2 linked regions of the Homo sapiens genome follow. The protein of the gene in region 2 binds, or shares a complex with, the protein of the main gene of each other region. Each region holds a gene or a part of one and is shown on either strand. Other genes may lie near its edges. A codon is read from its position in the direction of its gene.

What was found.
Region 1: the proteins of SLC39A7 (region 2) and METTL9 are in contact, whole or in part, in a crystal structure (PDB 8GZE), measured with the Homo sapiens proteins. Residues at the interface, in NP_001070984.1 of Homo sapiens: Gly65, His66, Thr67, His68, Glu69; in NP_057109.3 of Homo sapiens: Arg114, Thr115, Asn118, Arg123 (codon at 2,302), Gly124 (codon at 2,299), Met126 (codon at 2,293), Met179 (codon at 2,134), Asn210, Asp213, Arg214, Val241, His245, Tyr247, Glu249, Trp255, Tyr295, Leu296, Cys297, Glu298, Asp300, Tyr306, Val307, Leu308.

Annotation. Positions count from the first base shown.
Region 1 is NC_000016.10:21,616,428-21,620,176, reverse strand, and holds part of METTL9 (protein-L-histidine N-pros-methyltransferase isoform 1 precursor), read right to left. Parts: intron 2,313-3,749; coding exon 2,103-2,312; intron 1-2,102. UniProt on the Homo sapiens protein: Protein-histidine N-methyltransferase that specifically catalyzes 1-methylhistidine (pros-methylhistidine) methylation of target proteins.
Region 2 is NC_000006.12:33,198,859-33,202,607, reverse strand, and holds the start of SLC39A7 (zinc transporter SLC39A7 isoform 1 precursor), read right to left. Parts: upstream 1,742-3,749; 5' UTR 1,363-1,741; coding exon 952-1,362; intron 864-951; coding exon 695-863; intron 537-694; coding exon 483-536; intron 346-482; coding exon 181-345; intron 49-180; coding exon 1-48. Other genes in the region: RXRB (retinoic acid receptor RXR-beta), read left to right, coding at 2,132-2,366, 3,192-3,439. UniProt on the Homo sapiens protein: Transports Zn(2+) from the endoplasmic reticulum (ER)/Golgi apparatus to the cytosol, playing an essential role in the regulation of cytosolic zinc levels.

The sequences.
Region 1 (3,749 bases), on a different chromosome or scaffold from region 2:
AAGGACTTAAACAGTTCAAGCTAGGAAGGTCGATCTCCCTAAGCTGTAACTCAACTTCTAAGGCGTAGCTGTGCCTGATTACACCAGAGACTATACCTATTCCTTTCCTTCCATATAAAAATCCCACAGCGTATCTGTTCACAGAAATCTTCCCTTCTCCAGGCTAAAAATCTCCATGTTTTGCAAATGCTCAAACCAGTCCTGCTCCAAAAGCTACACTGATGCTCTATCTCTAGGATTAATCTGTAAAAGTAGAAACATGTGGATAGGAAAGTGAGTGATTACATAATTTCTTCTCCTTTCTTTCTAAGGCTAACCAGACTTCCAAAAATATCACAGAGAAAGGCTGACTCCAGCTCTACCTCCCTGATTCTGCACTGAGCCAATATATAGAAATCTCCCAATCAATAAATCATACTGAAATAAGAATACCCTTCTTCCAGCCGGGTGCAGTGGCTCACGCCTGTAATCCCAACACTTTGGGAGGCCAAGGCAGGCAGATCACGAGGTCAGCAGTTTGAGACCAGCCTGGCCAACATAGTGAAACCCTGTCTCTACTAAAAATACAAAAAAAAAAAAAAAAAAAAAATTAGCCGGGCATAGTGGCATGTGCCTGTAGTCCCAGCTACTCAGGAGGCTGAGGCAGTAGAATTGCCTGAATCCAGGAGGTGGAGGTTTCAGTGAGCTGAGATCACGCCACCGCACTCCAGCTTGGGCAAGTGAAACTTCATCTCCAGAAAAAAAAAAAAGGCCCTTCTTCCTAGTCTTTCAAACTCCAGATGACCTTAAAACCAAGATTAACACTGATGACTATAAACTAAAAGCAAAACAAAACAGAAAATAGCAAGTATTGTCAAGGAGTGGAGAAACTGAAACCCTTGTACTACATTGCTGGTGGGAATGTAAAATGGTGCAGCAGCAATGGAAAAGTATTGCAATTCCTCAAAAAATTAAACCCAGACTTAGCCATGTGATCCAGCAACTCCACTTCTGGGTCTATACCCAAAAGAAGTAAAAGTAGGGGCTCAAGTCGGTATCTGTACACCCATGTTCATAGCAGCATTATTCACAACAGCCAAATGGTAGAAACAACCCAAATATCTACTGACAGATAAATGGGTAAACAAAATGTGGTACATGCATACAGCGAATTATCATTCATCCTTAAAGAAAATTTTGGGCCAGGCGCAGTGGCTCACACCTGTAATCCCAGCACTTTGGATTACTTGAGGTCAGGAGTTCGAGACCAGCCTGGCCAAATAGTGAAACCCTATCCCTACTAAAACTACAAAAAAATTAGCCAGGCATGGTGGCATATGCCTGTAATCCCAGCTACTTGGGAGGCTGAGGCAGGAGAATTGCTTGAACCTGAGAGGTAGAGGTTGTAGTGAGCCGAGATCGTGCCACTGCACTCCAGCCTGGGTGACAGAGCAAGACTCCATCTCAAAAAAAAAAAGAAAAGAAAAGAAAAGAAAATTTTGGCCCATGGTACAACATGAGTAAACCTTGAAGACATTATGCTACATGCGATAAGCCAGTCACAAGGAGCTAATGTATATAATTCCTCTTATACGAAATACCCAGAATAGTCAAATTCATAGACAAAGTAGAATGGTGGTTGTCAGGGGTTACGAGGAGGGAAAAATGGGGAGTTATTGTTTATTGGGTACAGAGTTTCCGTTTCGGAAGACAAAAATTTCTGGAGATGAATAGTGGTGATGATTATGCAACAATGTAAATGTACTTAATACCACTGAACTGTACACTTAAAAATAGTTACAACAGTAAATTCTATGCTATGTGTATTTTACCACTACTTAAAAAAATTTTTTTTGAGAATGCCACATTCTGATTAGGGAAGAAGTCCCTTCTTCTGATCTGCCTTTTCCAAGTTGTCTCTCGCTAGTGCTTTTCTTACCTATAGTGCCAACCCCTCCGCTCCAGAAAAATACTGCTACCAGAAGATTATTTCTCTACATTTCCAGTTAATTATGTATGAGATGATTTTTTAAATTTCTAATCATGGAAGATCATTTTTTATTCATATCCTTTAAATAATATACTTTCAAGAAGAAATGCATCTAAAACCAAGAAAATTATACCTGTATTTCTTTTTCTGAAGCTGCCATATCATAGTTTCAGAAAGCTCAGTGGCATAGATTTCTTCAAAATGAGGGCTCATGATTTTTGTGACTTCTCCATCTCCAGCACCTAAATCAAGAAGTCTGTGGGTTTTCCAGTCTGGATTAATTTTAAGCAGTCTCTGAAACTGATCTGGTGAAAACACAAACATTGAGCCTCTTCCTAGCAACCTGAAAGAAAAAAAGGACAAAAATGGAAGTGTCTATGCAAATTAAGCACCCCTCACATACACACACAAAGTGAATATAGTGACTCAGCACCAACAACCATAATCACTTATTACATGGTTAAGATTTTTTTTTTTTTTAGACAAGGTCTCACTCTGTCACTCAGGCTGGAGTGCAGTGGCATGATCTCGGCTCACTGCAACCTTCGCCTCCTGGGTTCAAGCGATTCTCCTGTCCCAGCCTCCTGAGTAGCTGGGATTACAGGCATGCACCACCACACCCGGCTTATTTTTTGTATTTTTAGTGGAGACAGGGTTTCACCATGTCGGCCAGGTTGGTCTCGAACTCCTGACCTCAGGTGATCTACCCGCCTCGGCCTCCCAAAGTGCTGGGATTACAGGCATGGGCCACTGCGCCTGGCCTAATTTTTTTTTTCTTTTTTTTTTTGAGACAGAGTCTCGCTCTGCCGTCGCCCAGACTGGAGTGCAGTGGCACGATCTCTGCTCACTGCAAGCTCCGCCTCCCAGGTTCATGCCATTCTCCTGCCTCAGCCTCCTGAGTAGCTGGGACTACAGGCGCCCGCCACCACACCTGACTAATTTTTTGGATTTTTAGTAGAGAAGGGGTTTCACCATGTTAGCCAGGATGGTCTCGATCTCCTGCCCTCGTGATCCACCCGCCTCTGCCTCCAAAGTGCTGGGATTACAGGCATGAGCCACCGTGCCCAGCAAAGATATTATCTTTTATGTCATTTCTATGATTAGAAGACAAAGTTAATAAAATAAGAAAATGCCTCCAGATACCATTTGTCTTTGGAGTTGCAAATAATGCCCCAAAAAAGCATGGGAGGAGGGAAATAAAAGGTGGAAAGTGGAAAGGATGACAGGGGAAGGAAGAAGAAATAAGTAAGAGATGAATGTGAAGAACTTAAGTCAAAATAGGAAGGAAAAGTGGAAGGAGTAACAGAAAACATGTTTATCAGTTGAAAAAGATGACAAGCTAACACAGCCAGACCACAGTAGCAGAGAAACCAAATAGGAAAAAAAAGTGATTTCAAATATGGAACTAAACCATGGATCAGGAAAAAAGAGCTTTAGTATAACAGATTTTTAAGAGACACTAGAGAAAAGAGGGAAAAGAGTGGTCCTTGTGATGTCGGTTAATATGCATTAAAGTAGATTCGTACTTATGTCAGTTTATATGGTTACAACTGTCTGGGTCCTATTATTTCTAAAGGTCCTAGAAAACACTCAAAACCATAGTGATGCCTTTGAAAAAAGAGACTGAGGGGAGTTTAACTGGAGATTGAAGAGAACCCTCAGAAAAGCAACTATAGGTCCAGCCAAGTCTCATGGAAGCATCACTCTGGGAAATAAAGCGCAATCCCTATTTAGGACTTGTTTTCTAGCTCTGAAATTCTAGTTTATCTAGGACAGGGAT
Region 2 (3,749 bases):
TTTCCTTTTCTTCTTCCTCTGAGCTCTGCTTCTCCTTGGTAGAACGCTCTGAGGGAAGAAAAGAGTTGGTCAGAGTGGAGAACAGATCTTCCAACATGTCCTCTCCCTCCTGAGGGCCATAAGATGAGGAGATTCTGAGGCAGGCAAGTCAGCTTTCAGGAAAGTTGTTCCTGGGCTCACCTTGTCTTCCATGTCCATGACTTCCACGTGTATGACTGTGAGCGTGTCCATGTCCATGACTGTGACCATGTCCTCCTTTCACATGTCTCACAAATTTCTCCACGACAAGAAAGGCAACAATTCCACTGAGAACCCACAGTCCCACAGACAGAATGGGGCCCTGGCCTGGGAATGGAGGCATTGAGACATTAAGGGAGATGTGCATTCCAGACTCCTCCTCCTCAAGTGCGGGAGGTGAGGAATAGGGAGAGACGGACCTTCCCCAGCACCCCAACTCCCATCCCCATCTGTCTCTTCCTCACCACTGTGGGAGTGTCCATGTCCGGGTTGCTCCAGAGTGTGGTGAGAATGAGGTTCTGGAAGAAGGGGGGAAAACCAGATGAGGGAATATCTGACACAATGAGTGTGTATTTGGGGGAATATCGAAAGGTCAGGGATCATAAAGGAGAAAGAACCCTTTTCCTCCAAAGAACGAAATAGGTTAGATTTGAGGTAGAAGTCAGAGGTTACTTACCAAGAGCATGAGGAATGAGGTGCAGGAAAGCATCTCCCAGGAGCCCACCGGAAGCAAAACTGAGCAAGATCTGAAGTAGAGAGCGATGCCGGGGAGAGTTCGACTCCACGGGGATAAGGAAGAGGACAAAAAATGGAGCTGCTGAGATCAGCACTGTGGCCCCCAGTGCCTGGTGAGGGAGAGTCAAGGTCAAGTACTGTGGAGTTTCCCAACAATCCAGAACCAGCCCTTCTCTCTCCCATCCCCTGGAGACTCACATAAGCCCAGAGAGTGACAGCATCCAGGTCCTGCTTGATGCCTGGAGCCCCAGACTCCCCATAGCCTCCATGGCTATGCTCATGGTCATGTCCATGTCCTCTGTGGTAGAGGCTCTCATGGGAGTAGCCATGGCTATGGCCATGGTGTAAATCCTCATGTGAATGTCCATGGTCGTGATCGTGGGTATGTCCATGCCAGATGCTCTCGTGAGTGTGGCCATGGCCATGGGCATGGCTGTGGCCATGGTGGAAATCTTCATGTGAGTGCCTGTGGCTGTGGCCATGGAAGTCCTCTTGCAGATCGTCGTGCAGGTCGTCATGACCCCCGAGTCCAGCCACCAGAAGCCCCAAGGTCGCCCAGGTCAGCAGTCCCACGGCCACCCAGTGGGGGGCCCCCAGGCCTCTGGCCATCACGCTGACCAGAGGGACAGAGGCAGTGACTCCACTTGACTCAACTCTATACCTACACAGGGTCCGCTTTACTCCAATCGCGCCCTCCGTCCACCTCTATGGGCCGCTCTCCCATTCCCTTAAGTTCCCACCTACATTGTTCCCAAGACTAGTTCTCTTTATCCCGAACCACCTCCCGGATGTAGGGCCCTGGGACACTAATCTTTCACCAGCCACTTTACAGACTCTCTGGGCCCTCGTCTCTACGACTCATTAGGTGAGGAAAAGGCCTGGAAAGGATGGTAGAGAAAAAACAGAGAATTCTCACCGGCTCCGGGATCCTCTCCTTTCCCGGTTTGCTTGGACGTGGCAGTCCCGCCTTTAGATCCCGCGAGAACAGGAAGTTCCGTTCCACCTTCGCCCTAATGCCTTTACCAATATGGCGGCACTCCGGTAGCGACGAATCCATCCTGCACTGACACGCATGCGCGAGTGTGGAGGTGATTTGAGGGGAGGGTGGGCGAGGCGGGCTAACAGGCCGGAGGAGACCGCCTCCTCGGTTTCCAACTAGACGAGGGGGCGGGAACTCGCGCCGAGACTTCCCGTCTGTACAAAGATGGCTGCCACATTGGCGCTGTCATTTTGGTACTGAGCAGAGCGACGGGCTTAATTCGACCCAATCCAGGCCAGAGTCTTTCTCTCAGGGGCTTCCTCGTGCTCAGCTAATCCTCCGATCAATCCTTGGGAATCCCTGGGACCTCTTCGGTATCCCTACTCTCAGCCAGGGATCATGTCTTGGGCCGCTCGCCCGCCCTTCCTCCCTCAGCGGCATGCCGCAGGGCAGTGTGGGCCGGTGGGGGTGCGAAAAGAAATGCATTGTGGGGTCGCGTCCCGGTGGCGGCGGCGACGGCCCTGGCTGGATCCCGCAGCGGCGGCGGCGGCGGCGGTGGCAGGCGGAGAACAACAAACCCCGGAGCCGGAGCCAGGGGAGGCTGGACGGGACGGGATGGGCGACAGCGGGCGGGGTGAGTGCCCCAGCAGAAGGGCAGGCGAGCCAGTGACCGCTTTATCTGCGACCCCTCCCCCACACCCTCCCCCGGTGCTCTTTTCCTTGCGCTCCCGCCCCCTTGTTTGTAAACACGCGTCCCCTCCCTCCCGAGGGCCTTAGCACCCTCCCCCCCGGGGCGGGGCGGGGAAGGGGAGCTTCCGCCCTCCTAGCTGTGACCGCTTGAGGCCTTGGGCACCGGAGGTCGCGGGCCTGGGAAGGGCACGATTCCTCTTAAACCTCAGGACTTTGGGCGTTTACAGGCAGATCCTGCGTCTTAGGAGGGGTCTCTCCTGCCTGTCTCTTTCCCTTGCACGCTCTGGCTACCTGGCTTTACGCTGGGAATAGAGGGGCTCGATGGTCTACCCCACGTGCTGCCCCACCCACGAGACAGGTGTGGCTTTGGGATGACCTGGTATTCATTCAAATGGATTGGTTGGAAAATTTTCCTCACCTGAACTATCCTCCTCTCCTTGTCAACTCCCTCCTCTCACCACAATGAGGAGTTACGCTGTTTTTGGGTTTTTTTAGCCAGTCAAATATAGCAGTGGGAGGTTGTATACCAATTTTAGTGACACAAATGTTAATAAGTTCTGATAACCCACTACCATCGGACCAGCCGGAGTTACACTGTTGTTTGACAGCAGGGTGTCTCTGAACTTGGGGATGGGTGGAGTGGGCTGGGTCCGGCACGGTGGGGTATTAGAGAATTAAAGTCTCTAGTTGGATGTTTGAAGACTCATTTTCTTTTTTTGTCTCTTCTGTCTCTTGTGTGTCTGTGTGCCTGTACATACCCCTCCCTCAGACTCCCGAAGCCCAGACAGCTCCTCCCCAAATCCCCTTCCCCAGGGAGTCCCTCCCCCTTCTCCTCCTGGGCCACCCCTACCCCCTTCAACAGCTCCATCCCTTGGAGGCTCTGGGGCCCCACCCCCACCCCCGATGCCACCACCCCCACTGGGCTCTCCCTTTCCAGTCATCAGTTCTTCCATGGGGTCCCCTGGTCTGCCCCCTCCAGCTCCCCCAGGATTCTCCGGGCCTGTCAGCAGCCCCCAGGTGAGAGGTTGTGACCAACTTACTGCCTGGCCACTTTCATTTTCTTGTTTTCCTTGTAACCCCAGATCCTTGTGTGAACTTCCCCATGGCCCATTGACCTTCCAATCCTCTAACCTTGTCAGGCCTGTGGTCTTTATGAGACCCCTTGCCTTTCCTGAGGTGACTGATCTTTCAGTGCATGCTTCCTCCCCTAAAAGAACTCTAATATTCTTTGTTTTTGTGTGTGTGTGTGTGTTTTTTTTTTTTTTTTTTTTTGAGATGGAGTCTTGCTCTGTTGCCCAGGCTGGAGTGCAGTGGCACAATCTCAGCT